4 linked regions of the Homo sapiens genome follow. The protein of the gene in region 3 interacts with the protein of the main gene of each other region in a pairwise test. Each region holds a gene or a part of one and is shown on either strand. Other genes may lie near its edges.

The links. Proteins that work in one complex are often made in the same cells at the same time.
Region 1: the proteins of LPXN (region 3) and PLSCR4 interact in a two-hybrid assay, tested with the Homo sapiens proteins (one large-scale study listed by BioGRID and IntAct).
Region 2: the proteins of LPXN (region 3) and TGFB1 interact in binary tests that used the Homo sapiens proteins (3 or more experiments, as listed by UniProt).
Region 4: the proteins of LPXN (region 3) and MAPK6 interact in a two-hybrid assay, tested with the Homo sapiens proteins (one large-scale study listed by BioGRID and IntAct).

Annotation. Positions count from the first base shown.
Region 1 is NC_000003.12:146,191,974-146,195,616, forward strand, and holds the end of PLSCR4 (phospholipid scramblase 4), read right to left. Parts: intron 3,310-3,643; coding exon 3,151-3,309; intron 2,483-3,150; coding exon 2,438-2,482; 3' UTR 362-2,437; downstream 1-361. UniProt on the Homo sapiens protein: Catalyzes metal ion-induced ATP-independent rapid bidirectional and non-specific movement of phospholipids (lipid scrambling or lipid flip-flop) between the inner and outer leaflet of the plasma membrane and participates in the redistribution of phospholipids between membrane leaflets.
Region 2 is NC_000019.10:41,340,291-41,343,933, reverse strand, and holds part of TGFB1 (transforming growth factor beta-1 proprotein preproprotein), read left to right. Parts: intron 1-1,686; coding exon 1,687-1,764; intron 1,765-1,900; coding exon of another isoform or gene 1,901-1,903; coding exon 1,904-2,051; intron 2,052-3,643. UniProt on the Homo sapiens protein: Transforming growth factor beta-1 proprotein: Precursor of the Latency-associated peptide (LAP) and Transforming growth factor beta-1 (TGF-beta-1) chains, which constitute the regulatory and active subunit of TGF-beta-1, respectively.
Region 3 is NC_000011.10:58,548,242-58,551,884, reverse strand, and holds part of LPXN (leupaxin), read left to right. Parts: intron 1-652; coding exon 653-820; intron 821-1,004; coding exon of another isoform or gene 1,005-1,088; exon of another isoform or gene 1,089-1,732; intron 1,733-1,738; coding exon 1,739-1,912; intron 1,913-2,017; coding exon 2,018-2,099; intron 2,100-3,643. UniProt on the Homo sapiens protein: Transcriptional coactivator for androgen receptor (AR) and serum response factor (SRF). Contributes to the regulation of cell adhesion, spreading and cell migration and acts as a negative regulator in integrin-mediated cell adhesion events.
Region 4 is NC_000015.10:52,025,708-52,029,350, reverse strand, and holds part of MAPK6 (mitogen-activated protein kinase 6), read right to left. Parts: intron 1,713-3,643; exon of another isoform or gene 1,478-1,712; intron 1-1,477. UniProt on the Homo sapiens protein: Atypical MAPK protein. Phosphorylates microtubule-associated protein 2 (MAP2) and MAPKAPK5.

The DNA.
Region 1 (3,643 bases), on a different chromosome or scaffold from region 3:
TCCTGACCTCGTGATCCGCCCGCCTCGGCCTCCCAAAGTGCTGGGATTACAGGTGTGAGCCACCGTGCCCGGCTGACTTTAATAATTTAAAATTTATTAAATTAAAAATATATAAATTATATTTTTATATATTATAAAAATATATATAATATATATTATATATAAATTATATATATTATATATAAATATATATAATTAAAAATATATAAATTAAATATATATTAAATATATAAATTAAAAATAATTTAAAATTTATATTAGAAAGCAAGGGCCTTGAATAAACCTAATAATCAATAAAAATTACTTCAAAATCCCTGTGAAAAAAGTATTTGAAGATTCAAAGTCAAAAAATAAAACAGTGTTTTACTATTAACCATTGTATATTTATTTAAAAGCCATAAAGAATACGAAAAAGCATGAACGCACAAATTCCAGAGAATTTGTTTTTTAATCAATCCGATCAATTTTACACAACAAAATATCATTAAGAAACATAGAAATCATGTGAATTGTATTAAAACTATGACATATGACAATATTATATAAAGAAAATTTTAACTCTAAGAGACAAATATAATTTTTTAAAAAAGAAATTAAAAATATCACGTCTTATGCTAAATATATATAGATATATTTATTATGATGCAGCAGGTTTTGGAATACAGGGATTTAGGCAAGTTAAAAATAAAAAGTTTATATGCTTAAACTTTCTGAATATTGTTTGTCTGATTTCCTATTTAAATATCAGACATCATTATAGGAAATACATAGTCTACTTACGATTGCAATGGCACTTTCAAATATAAGGCAATTAATATTTTAGAAAGCAGCAACTTTTACTTTTTTTAAAAAAAAAAGCTAGTAGCAGCATGTAAAAATGAGCATTACGAGAAACTCAGAAAAACAAATTTACCCTGAAAAGATGAATATAATTAAAAAACAAAGCACCTTTCATTTCAAAAAGAACTGTAGGCTAAGACCCTCATCTCAGAATAACCCCATCTAAGAACACTCAGGCTTTCTTTATTTAATAAGCAGCAGCAGAAGAATACATCCCATTCTACATACTGACTGTGTTAAAAAAAAAAAATGCAGTCCATATGCAGGTAGAAAACTAAAGTGCAACAGAAGCAAGTTAATTAGAGTGTACTCACTTATACACTATGCTTTTAATTAGTTAACACAAAAATGTGTAATTGATAATTTATTATTGGTCCTACATATTATTTACTGGCATGCTGTAGACCATAGAGAAATAGAATGTTTACTGTGTTTTATTATTATTACTCTGTGTAGATACATATTTATCTATCATGTCAATAAAAAGAAGCAAAGCAGTATTAAGCAGCGGTGGAATTTGTCGCTTTCACTTTTTATAAAGTGCTACATAAAATGTCATATTTCCAAATTTAAAAACATAACTCCAGTTCTTACCATGAGAACAGCATGGTGATCACGAAGGATCTTCTTGAAAAAAACAAAAACAAAAACAAAAAACAATGATCTCTTCTGGGTATCACATCAAATGAGATACAAAGGTGTACTAGGCAATCTTAGAGATCTGGCAACTTATTTTATATATAAGGCATCTGTGACCAAGAGACGTTATGAATTAAATGTACAAATGTATTATGTATAAATGTATTAAATGCAAGCTTCATATAATGACACCAATGTCTCTAAGTTGCTCAGAGATCTTGACTGGCTGTGGCCCTGGCCAGCTCCTTTCCTGATAGTCTGATTCTGCCTTCATATATAGGCAGCTCCTGATCATCCATGCCAGTGAATGAGAAAACAAGCATGGAATATATAAACTTTAACATTAAAAAATGTTTTATTTTGTAATAAAATCAAATTTCCCATTGAAACCTTCAAAAACTTTGCAGAATGAGGTTTTGATATATGTGTACAAGTAGTACCTTCTTAGTGCAAGAAAACATCATTATTTCTGTCTGCCTGCCTTTTTGTTTTTAAAAATGAAGACTATCATTGAAACAAGTTTGTCTTCAGTATGAGGACATGTTGACGGAGAGGAAAGGTAGGAAAGGGTTAGGGATAGAAGCCAGGTTATTTTATGCCAACAAAGTCTGCTCTAAAAAGCCTTATTGTTTCACTACCTATTAATATGAGAACTCTGGATTCATTTTCCCTTATCTCATGTTTATAGTGTTTTAAGCTTACTTTGTATATGTTTACTGGGTTAATGAGTCACAGCTTTTCAGGATGAACTCCTATTCTACTAGAGAGATACTCAATTGAAACACACTTTTAGATTGTGTTCTTGCAAGCCCACTCTCAGCTGTCAAAGTTAACACCCAATAAAAATACTCTACAAAGCAAAGAAATACACTTGCAAATAACTGAGTGCTGACTGTAAGCCCAATCCAACTTTTCCATTTTTCAAAATTAACCATAGTTGATGGCTTGCTGTGTCTCTCTATCTTGAACGTTGTGGTGGAGATCTTTCAAAATACATGAAGTCCTGAAATTGGAAAAAGAATTATATGTAGATATATAGATAATTAGGTATAATGCATGCGGTATTATCCTTTGTAATTTATTAGGGGATTCCCCCATTCCAGTTAAAATACATAAATTTAGGGAAATATTTATGAAGAGCACCTACTGTGAAGAGCAGCAGTTACAAATTTGGAACTGTTAGTTTTCCATTTGAAGTGCCAATTAACTGAATCTCATCATTAAAAAGAGGAAAAACTTCATAATCTCAGGATTGGACAACCCCAAAGAGTACAGTGACAGGCAGAAAGGAAGGAGGAATGGGACATCCACTTTAGAGTTATTTCACTAAGAAATCATAGGCTAGGCATTTTTAAGTAGTGACAATGACAAATAACATGCAATGATGATAATTATACCCAATGGATACCTAATGTTATCTAAGTACTCCCCTGGTCATTTTACCATGATAGCTAACATTCATAACCCTGAAAATTATAAGTATTTTAATCTCCATTTTACAGATGAGGAAACTGAGGCTTTCAAGTGTAAACACTTTCTAAACCATGTAACTAGTAAGTGGCACAGAGATAAGTTGGATTGGTTTCAAGGCTTATTCTTTATACTACACTATACTGCTTCTCCATCAGAAAGAACAACTCTCTCAGGATAACTCAAAAATAGAAGGCTTACAATGAGGAAGCAAGCTCCAAAAATCATGGCTTTCATCTTCACATCCAGGTCTAGTGGGAAGTGAATGTCAAAATGGTCAGCATCTGCCATTGCTGATAACAAACCATTCCACTTCCGGATAATACTGCCGATGTTGGATATGCCATCAAGGGATTTGACCTGGAATGACAAGAATGTGCCTTTATGATGATTGAAACGCATTGAAGCATGTTTTAATGTTCTGCTTATGTTCAGATAACATAAATACAATGCAGAAAAAGACTATGTAATTATATAATTTGAAATGAGAAAATAATGGCCAAAAAGGGTTAACTGCCTTGCAACTGGTTAATAACTGAGCTAGGGTATTCTTAAAAGTCTCAGACTGCTGCTCTTTCTTCATCTTCAAATGAGTTATTAAGGGACCTTTTAAGAAGAGGTATGATTTGAACTGATTATGAAATTCTTCTCAACATAGTAAAGGGTGGGAATTGGGAGAGAGTCACTTCCAAAC
Region 2 (3,643 bases), on a different chromosome or scaffold from region 3:
AGAGCCTAACTAACTCATTTGATCTGTCCAGGAGATGATTGTCTCTGTCTGGTTTCTGGCAGGGCCCATGGTGCCCCTATCTCTCTCCCTCACCTCCCTCTCATTTATGCTTTTATTCAATAATTGCCCACAGGTTCCTGCTGTGTGCCTGGCCATGTGCTGGGTGGTGTGGGGGACATAGTGATAACCAAGACAGCCCTCAGTTCTGCCCTCATGGGGCCCACAGTCACTTCTGGACACCTAAGAGATCTTGTCAAGGCCCCACCAGGCAGGAATGACCTAGAATGATCAAGAATGGGATGGGGAGGCACCAGCAGGGAGGACAAGGCTGGGACAGGGAGGCATGCAGGATGGGGGAACGCCCTAAGTGCTGTTGGGAGCCCAGAGAAGGCACCTGGACCCATCTGGGGAGTCTAGGAGGGCTTGCTGGGTGAGGGTGATTGTGTGGAGACTCACAGGATAAATAGTAGTTTGGCCACATGAAAAAAAAGGGATTAGGGGGCCTGGCATGGTGGCTCACGCCTGTAATCCCAGCACTTTGAGAGGCCGAGGTGGGTGGATCACCTGAGATCGGGAGTTCGAGACCAGCCTGACCAACATGGAGAAACCCCGTCTCTACTAAAAATACATAATTAGCTCGGCGTGGTGATGCATGCCTGTAATCCCAGCTACTCGGGAGGCTGAGGCAGGAGAATTGCTTGAACCCAGGAGGTGGAGGTTTCAGTGAGCCAAGATCGTGCCATTGCACTCCAGCCTGGGCAACAACAGTGAAACTCCGTCTCAAAAAAAAAAAAGAAAAGAAAAAGAAAAAATAGGGATTAGGGAGCAGGTGGGCACTGGGAGGAGTGTCCTGGGCTGTTCGACAAAGGCCTAGAAGGAGCTCATCTGTCTTGGTCAATGCTGAGTCCCAAGCACACAGCACAGGCTTCGGCACATTGTAGGAGCCTAGAAAACATCATTCACTCATTCATTCAAGAGATTGATGCTGGCTGGGTGCAGTGGCTCATGCCTGTAATCCCAGCACTTCGGGAGGCCAGGGCAGGAGGATTGCTTGAGCCCAGCCTGGGCAACATAGTGAGACCTCTGTCTCTACAGAGAATTTAAAAAGTAGCCGTGTAGGCCGGATGCAGTGGCTCAAGCCTGTAATCCCAGCACTTTGGGATGCCAAGGCAGGCGGATCACCTGAGGTCAGGAGTTTGAGACCAGCCTGGCCAGCATGGTGAAACCCCATCTCTACTAAAAATACAAAAAATTAGCCGGGTGTGGTGGCGCATGCCTGTTATCCCAGCTACTTGGGAGGCTGAGGCAGGAGAATCGTTTGAACCTGGGAGGTGGAGGTTGCAGTGAGCTGATATCACGCCACTGAACTCCAGCCTGGGCAACAGAGCCAGACTCCATCTCAAAAAAAAAAAAAAAATTAGCCATGCGTGGTAGCACGCGCCTGTGGTCCCAGCTACTCGGGAGGCTGAGATGGGAGGATTGCTTGGGCCTTGGAGATTGAGGCTGCGAGACCTTGTCTCAAAAAAAAAAAAAAAAAAAAAAAGAGAGAGCTGCAGTGAGAGGGCAGAGTGGGGTGGGTGGGGGAGGCAGGAAGGAAGCCCCTGGGGTTTGCTCCTTCCTTCCTCTTCCTCCAGGGGCTGGGTGAGCTGCACTCTCAGACTGGCTTCCCTCTCGCCACTCCTACAGGGGAAATTGAGGGCTTTCGCCTTAGCGCCCACTGCTCCTGTGACAGCAGGGATAACACACTGCAAGTGGACATCAACGGTGAGGCCTGCTTCCCCGGCCATGCCCAGTTGTGACGTGTGTGCGTGTGTGTGTTCCCATCTGCCCCACGCCCCACTTATCTATCCCTCTGAGAGTGTGTGTGTATGTCCCCTATCCCCTGACTCCCACACCAAAGCAGGGTTCACTACCGGCCGCCGAGGTGACCTGGCCACCATTCATGGCATGAACCGGCCTTTCCTGCTTCTCATGGCCACCCCGCTGGAGAGGGCCCAGCATCTGCAAAGCTCCCGGCACCGCCGAGCCCTGGACACCAACTATTGCTTCAGGTGAGCCTTGTAGCCTGGATGGAGGCCTTCCAGGCTGGGGGCATGACTGCCATCTGCTGACCAGGTGCTCCAGGTTGGACACCTGGCTGCTGCTGTGCTTGGGCTGAGCATCTGTCTCCTTTAGCTTGGAGGGCTCAGGGGATGAGGTCTGGGTGTAAGAACCAGGAGTCTTGTGCCAGGTGCGGTGGCTCACGCCTGTAATCCCAACACTTTGGGAGGCTGAGGCAGGTGGATCACCTGAAGTGAGGAGTTTGAGACCTGTCTGGCCAACATGGTGAAACCCGTCTCTACTAAAAATCCAAAAATTAGCCAGGCGTGGTGGGCGCCTATAATCCCAGCCACAAAAAACAAAAAAAGAACTGGGAGTCTTGTAATGTTGGGATCAGGTTCCTTTTTTTTTTTTTTTTTTTTTTTTTGAGACAGAGTCTCGCTCTGTCACCTGGGCTGGAGTGCAGTGGCGCTATCTTGATTCACTGCAAGCTCCACCTCCCGGGTTCACACGATTCTCCTGTCTCAGCCTCCCGAGTAGCTAGGACTACAGGCACGTGCCACCACGCCCAGCTAATTTTTTTGTATTTTTAGTAGAGATGGGGTTTCACTGTGTTAGCCAGGATGGTCTCCATCTCCTGACCTCGTGATACACCCACCTCAGCCTCCCAAAGTGCTGGGATTACAGGCGTGAGCCAACGCGCCCGGCCTAATTTTTTGTATCTTTAGTAGAGACTGGGTTTCACCATGTTAGCCAGGATGGTCTTGATCTCCTGACCTCGTGATCCGCCTGCCTCAGCCTCCCGAAGTGCTGGGATTACAGGTGTGAGCCACCACGCCCAGCCTTGCTTTCTTGCTGGAGTGTTGGAATCACAGAATGTTAGAAAGTTGAACCCTGTGATTGTTGGAATTCAAAGTTGGAAGGTCACCATCTTGAATCCCTAAATTGTTGGCAGGTTGAGGTTCTAGAATGCTGGGATTCTAGAATGCTAGAATTTGGTGTTAATTACTGAAATGGAAAATGTCGGACTCAAGGAAAGCTGAAACATTGGAATCCTAGAATTTGGGGATTCAAAATGGGAAGATGGCCCATGTGGAATTCCTGCACCACTGGCCAATTGTGGATACCAGTGTTGGCAGATTGGAGTCCTTGAATATTGGGCTCACAGTGGTAGAATTCTGTTTTGAAATATTCACATCCACAAATGTTGGAGTTGGAGAAAGCAGAATATTGGTATCTCAGCATGTTGGAACTCAGTGTTGGAATGTTAGAATATTAGAATGCTGGGATTTTATTAATAGAAAGTGGCAGCAGGCTGGGCGCGGTGGCTCACGCCTATAATTCCAGCACTTTGGGAGGCTGAGGTGGGCGGATCCCTGAGGTCTGGAGTTCAAGACCAGCCTGGCCAACATGGTGAAACCCCATCTCTATTAAAAATACAAAAATTAGCCAGGTGTGGTGGCTGGCACCTGTAATCCCAGCTACTCGGCTGGGATTACGGCTATCCAGGTACCCAGGCTGGGGCAGGAGAATCACTGGAACCTCGGGGGTGGAGGTTGCAGTGAACCGAGATCGCGCCACTGCACTCCGGCCTGGGCAATGA
Region 3 (3,643 bases):
GCTTTTCCCATAAATGTCAATATTTCTAAGTCCCAAGTATCTACTCAAATATTACTTCCTTAGAGGGGCCTTCTTTGATTATTACCTCCATCTAAATCAATTCTTCTTACCATCTTGCTGTGTCCCTTCTATCTCTTTCTATAACTTATCTCTGTCTGACATTACAACATATATTTATTTATTTAATTATTTATTGTCTATCGCCCACAGAATGCAATTCCATGAGGCCAGACACTTGGTCTGTCTTATCTTTGCTTTAATCCAAGTGCTTAGAGCAGTGATTGGCACAAACCAGGTATTCAACAATTATTGCCAAATAAATGAGTAAAAGGGAGATGTGACTAATTTTTGAACTGGGGTCATCCTAAGATCTTCAAAGGGTATCATCTTCATGTACTAAATTTCCTACATTAAGAAAAGATTTACAAATATAAAATTAGTCAGATTTCATTTGGCCTGAGGAGTTTAGGATGAAAGGGAGATGAAAAGATTTTTATTGGTGTTGAAATTTTAGATTTTTCCAATGTCTTGCAGGAAGGTTGGGGAAAGGCCAAGAGATCAGTCAGTAGAGGTGAATTTATAGAGTCATTAGAAGATGCCAATGAGAATAAAAATGAGGCTGATTCTGTTCTTGGTTCTTCCCTTGGGCCAGGTTGCAGTGAGAGCAGATGCTGGCAAGAAGCACTTACCAGACAAGCAGGATCACAAGGCCTCCCTGGACTCAATGCTTGGGGGTCTGGAGCAGGAATTGCAGGACCTTGGCATTGCCACAGTGCCCAAGGGCCATTGTGCATCCTGCCAGAAACCGATTGCTGGGAAGGTGAGATGGGCTGAAATTTTGGTCCTACAGCCTTCTTTGTCTCTCTCTGTCTCATCAAGGTTTGCTCTTTCCCCTTATATTTTAAGATATTTTAGTTAGCATTAATAATTACTAATCACTTACAGTGCTCTGGCCACTGAGCTAAGTGCTTTACAAGTATTTCCTCATTTAATGGTCACATCAGCCCTTCAAGAAGAATGATTGCTCCCTTTGTAAAGATGAGGAAACTGAGGACTCAGAGACATTAATGGACATATCCAAGGCATAATAAGAGGTAGAGGTAAGATCTGAAACCAGGAGACTGTCTCCTGAGTTTGAGTTCTTGACCATTTTTCTGTACTGCCTTTACTGAGATGACCTTTCTCACTGCTCCCTTTGTTCACACATTCCCAGTCTAAATTGATTGATTACAATTTTCAGCTGAACTCAGCTCCAAGTCACAGCTGCAAACTCCTGTTCTGCATCGTCCTTCACCGAAGCTATGATAAAAAGCTTTGAGACCTGACTGCATGGGGCGTGGAATAAAGTGTTCAAACTAGAGGAATAAAAACTGTCATTTGGCCTTTTCCTCTTCCAGGGGTCCCTTCCACACTAAGGCTACAGTTACAACTTCTCTGTCATCAATGTGCTATATGTTGTTTCTGCCACCCCCTGTGGCAGTGCAGTGGTTGTGAACATTTACAGGCTTTCATCACAGTGATCAGTCCCGGAAGTGGGCATCCTTTTATTATCAATCCATAAAGCACAGACCACAGATGGCCTTAGGTGGAACCTAGGTCTAGGCCTCAGTGTTGTATAATTCCAGGGCGTGTTGTCTACAAGGGGTACAATGTGAAGAGTGCTCCCTAGAGTTGTGCAACCTGTAGGCTGTAGAGCACTCAACTGGCCTCCTGTGTCAGGCTTTATTTCACTCCACAGGTGATCCATGCTCTAGGGCAATCATGGCATCCTGAGCATTTTGTCTGTACTCATTGCAAAGAAGAGATTGGCTCCAGTCCCTTCTTTGAGCGGAGTGGCTTGGCCTACTGCCCCAACGACTACCACCAACTTTTTTCTCCACGCTGTGCTTACTGCGCTGCTCCCATCCTGGATGTAAGTAAATCCCCGCTCCTCTCCAGCTTTCAGTCACTCACTTAGAACCAGAGTCATGCTTTACAACTTCTGCATCATTATAATATCTGTGTGTTCCCTTTCCAGAAAGTGCTGACAGCAATGAACCAGACCTGGCACCCAGAGCACTTCTTCTGCTCTCACTGCGGAGAGGTGTTTGGTGCAGAAGGTATGACCCGACTTGAGAGGCTGTATCCCACACCCCAGTGGGTAGTTATAAGACCAGCAACACCTTTCCTGGTAGTCACGGGAGTCCTGGTTCCTATCAGTACTATCAAAGTGCCCATTTCAGTACTAGATACCATCCCTCCCTACCTTTCTCCAACATTTATAATTTCCCTTTAAATTGATTTTTTAAATCACAGAAATACAAATGCATAGTTTAAAAACTCAAATATTACTTCAAGGGTAATATTGAAAAAGCCTTTTCTTGTTGAATATTGAAAAAGTCCCTTTCTCATCTCCAAATCCAGTTCTCCTCTCCAAATTATTTTAGCTGTTTCTTCTGATATTTACTTATTTTTTGTTGTTGTTGTTGTTTGTTTTTTTGAGACGGAGTCTCACTGTGTTGCCCAGGCTGGAGTGCAGTGGTGCGATCTCTGGTGCGATCTCCGCCCACTGCAACCTCCACCTCCTGGGTTCAAGCGATTCTCCTGCCTCAGCCTCCCAAGTAGCTGGGACTACAGGCACTTGCCACCACACCCGGTTAATTTTTGTATTTTTAGTAGGGACAATGTTTCACCATATTGGCCAGGCTGGTCTTGAACTCCTGACCTCGTGATCCGCCCGCCTTGGCCTCCCAAAGTGCTGGCATTACAGGCATGAACTACTGCGCCTGGCCTGCTTATGTGTTTTAAATAATAACTTTATATTGTTATAGATTGTTTTATTTTTCCAGTTTTAACCATTATGTATTGACTGTCTAAGAGGGAAGATGAGGTTTAGAAATGTTATTATTACCCCACTCACTCCTAACATATTTCCCCTCCCCTGTTTTTTCAATATATAATTATGTCATAATTACAGGTTAGATCAGTATTAAGTGTGCATATGTTGACAATCATAGAATACTGCTCACAAGTAAGCCATGTAGCAAACTGACTACACTAGAGTCTGGATTTTAGAGTCAGACTTCCAGGTTCAAATCTGGGTTGTGGTATTTGTTCAAGTCATTTAACATCTCTGTACCTTACTTTCCTCATCAGTAAAATAGTCCTAATGAAATTGCCTACCTTATAGGGTTGTTATGAGGATTTAGAGACAATACAAGCGTGGTATTTAGAATAGTGCCAAGCACATGGAGGTATAGTAGTGTTAATATTATTATCACAGTGTCCTTTTGGTATAAATTCATTTTTTTCTAAAGTTAACATTTGAATCCTTTTTGAAATTGGCTTAGTTTTTATTGTACTTATCACTAAGTTATGCAACAGAACTGTGAAATTCTTTTCAAAATGGCCAACTACATCTGGCAACAAGTCAGTTTCTTTCTTTTCTTTTTTTTTTTTCTGGAGATATCCCTCCAGGAGACTTTCCTCCTCCTGATTCAACATGAAATGATTTCTTCCTGCTGAGTAGCAGTCATTCTGGTTCATTAACTTAGAATTATATCTAGTAATTACTCTTGGAAATTCCTTTTATTAGTTTCCTCTTTGGATGCTCTGTTTCCTGGGTCCCATGTCTATGTTTTATACATGTTACCACCTTTATTTT
Region 4 (3,643 bases), on a different chromosome or scaffold from region 3:
GTAAAGGAGAGAAGCCTGTTTAATAATTAAAAAAAAACAAAGCTAGGTGCAGTGGCTTATGCCTGTAATAAGGAGGCTGAGGTCAGGAGTTCCGAGACCAGCCTGACCAACATGGTGAAACCCCATCTCTACTAAAAATACAAAAATTAGCCAGGCGTGGTGGTGTGCGCCTGTAATCCCAGCTACTGGGGAGGCTGAGGCAGGATAATCACTTGAACCCAGTAGATGGAGGTTGCAGTGAGCCAATATTGCGCCACTGCACTCCAACCTGGACGACAGCGAGACTCCGTCTCAGAAACAAAAAAAAGCATACAGTATAACAAGGTGTAAAGTAGAAGGAAAACAAGAACATATGTCTCATAAAATGAGAAGTAGATGAATAGGCCGAAAACAGTGGTCAACTATATTGAATGCTCCTACAAGAGCCTGTAAGACTAATTTAGTAAATAGAAACCACTGGCAACCTTGACTAGAGTAGTTTTAGTGGTAAGAATGGAGGCCAATCTGTAGTAGGCTGAGAAGCAAAGGGAAGTGGAGAGAGCACAAAAAGACAACTTTTGAAAACTGGCTTGGAAGAGAATCAGAGAAATGAGGCTGTAGCTAGAGAATAATGTGGAATGGCGAGAGGGCTTATAAACAAGGAAGCCACACTTAGTGCTGTCCAATAGTGTTGTCTGCAATGATAGGGATGTTCTATATCTGCACTGTCCAATAGAGCAGCCATTAGCACCATATATGGCTACTGAACAACTGAAATATGACTAGCATCACTGAGGACCTAAATTTTTTAAATTTTTCTTTTAACAGCCACACATTTCATTGCAGAAAGCACTATTGATTAGTAGCTACCATACTGGACAGTACAGCCCTAAAGCACATCTGCATATTAATAAAGATAATCCAGAAAGGGAAAAATTCATGATGTAGGCAAGAACGAGGTAAGTCCTTAAGAAGTCAACAGGCTGGCAGGGTGCGATGGCTCACTCCTGTAATCCCAGCACTTTGGGAGGCCAAGGCAGATGAATCACTTGAGGTCAGTAGTTCAAGACCAGCCTGGTCAACACAGAGACGAATCCGTCTCTACTAAAAATACAAAAATTGCCGGGCGCGGTGGTTCACACCTGTAATCCCAGCACTTTGGGAGGCCGAGGCGGGCGGATCACAAGGTCAGGAGATCGAGACCATCCTGGCTAACACGGTGAAACCCTGTCTCTACTAAAAATACAAAAAATTAGCCGGGCGTGGTGGCAGGCGCCTGTAGTCCCAGCTACTCGGAAAGCTGAGGCAGAAGAATGGCGTGAACCTGGGAGGCAGAGCTTGCAGTGAGCTGAGATCGCACCACTGCACTCCGCCTGGGCAACAGAGCGAGACTCCGTCTCAAAAAAAAAAAAAAAAAAAAAAAATACAAAAATTAGCCGGGCGTGGTGGTGGGCACCTGCAGTCCCAACTACTCAAGAGGCTGAGGCAGAAGAATCACCTGAATCTGGGACGCAGAGGCTGCAGTGAGCCAAGATCGTGCCACTGCACTCCAACCTGGCCAACAGAGTGAGACTCCATCTCAAAAAACAGTAAATAAATAAATAAATAAATAAATAAATAAAGAGAAATCAACAGGCTGAGCAGAGTGGCTCATGCCTGTAATCCCAGCACTTTTTGAGGCCGAGTCAGGATGATTGCTTGAGCCCAGCCTGGGCAACACAGGGAGACCCCGCCTATAAAAAAAAAAAAAAAAATTAAGATTAAAAAAAAAGTCAAGAGAAGACATCCAGAGCACAAATGGCACAATCTACATGGGATACAACATGAACAAAGCAAGGCATGAAATTACAGTAACGGGTAGAGATGAAGACTCAGAATATGTATTAAGCCTGATTGGAATCTTAAGCATAAAACTCAATTACAGAGGGCTATAAAATCCAAGCAGGAGGGGGAGGGTAGGTAACTTACATCTACTAAGGACCTATTATGTGACAGGCATTTTCTTTTTTTTTTTTTTTTTTTGAGAGGGAGTCTCGCTCTGTCACCCAGCCTGGAGTACAGTGGCACGATCTCGGCTCACTGCAAGCTCCGCCTGCTGGGTTCAAGCAATTTTTCTGTCTCAGCCTCCCGAGTAGCTGGGATTACAGGCATACGCTACCATGGCCAGTTTTTTCGTATTTTTAGTAGAGATGGGGTTTCACCACGCTGGCCAGGCTGGTCTTGAACTCCTGACCTTGTGATCCGCCCGCCTCGGCCTCCCAAAGTCCTGGGATTACAGGCATTAGCCACCGCGCCCGGCTGTGACAGGCATTTTCTTTTTTCAAGACAGAGTATTGCTCTGTCGCCCAGGCTGGAGTGCAATGGTGTGATCTCGGCTCACTGCAACCTCCGCCTCCTGGGTTCAAGCGATTCTCCTGCCTGGGCCTTCAGAGTAGCTGGGAGTACAGGTATGCACCACCATACTCAGCTAATTTTTTGTATTTTAGTAAAGACGGGTTTTCATCATGTTGGCCAGGCTAGTCTAGAACTCCTGACTTTGTGATCCGCCTGCCTCGGCCTCCCAAAGTGCTGAGATTACAGGCATGAGCCATCGCGCCCAGCCATGACAGGCATTTTCTAAATGACAAATTATTTCTCTCATCTCAAACTACAGTCTTGTAAATGTCATTTTACAAACAAGAGCACTGATGCTCTTTACACACACAGTAAATGCCAAGATTTGGACATAGGCCTGTGACTATAGGGTTAGAATCTTCCCACTGCATAAGGTGGGAGGTTAAGGCCAGGCACGGTGGCTCACGCCTGTAATCCCTGCACTTTGGGAGGCCGAGACGGGTGGATCACTTGAGGTCAGGAGTTCAAGACCAGCCTGGCCAACATGGTTGAAACCCCATCTCTACTAAAAACATAAAATTAGCTGGGCGTGGTGGTGCATGCCTGTAATCCCAGCTACTTGGGAGGCTGCAGCAGGAGAATCACTTGAACCCAGGAGGCGGAGGCTGCAGTGAGCGAAGATCACACCATTGCACTCCAACCTGAACAATAAGAGCAAAACTCCGTCTCAAAACAACGACAACAACAAAACAAAAAAAGGTAGGAGGTTAAGAACCACTGTTTCGGTACCTGGAATTAACATAAACAGCAGATCAATCTGGAAGTAATCAACAAGTGCCAACAAGCCTAGAGGGACTAGGCCAGAGGCAAAAACTATCCTGCCAATGCTTTCCACAGGATAACTAAGGAAAACTTAATAGCTACTTTTTAAAAATTCAAGTGAAAATACCTGTTAAGATGGAAAGAAACTGACTTGCTTACAACTTAGATTATCTACTTTATTGAACACAGATGTATCAATTAGAAAATCAGCACTGTTTTATAATACATACTGAAATAATATCTGGGCATATTAGAAAAACTAAGTCAACATACTCTCTCTCCAATTTGTACATTAAGAAAGGACAATTATTAAACTGAGTCTAACCAGTTATTAAATTACAGCTTAGATTTTAGAGTGGGCAAAGATCATCTAGATCTGTGCTGTCCATGTAACCACCAGCTACATCCAACTATTTTTATTTTTTTTTGAGACGTAGTCTTGCTCTGTCACCCAGACTGGAGTGCAGTGGCGCTCACTGCAAGCTCCGCCTCCTGGGTTCATGCCATT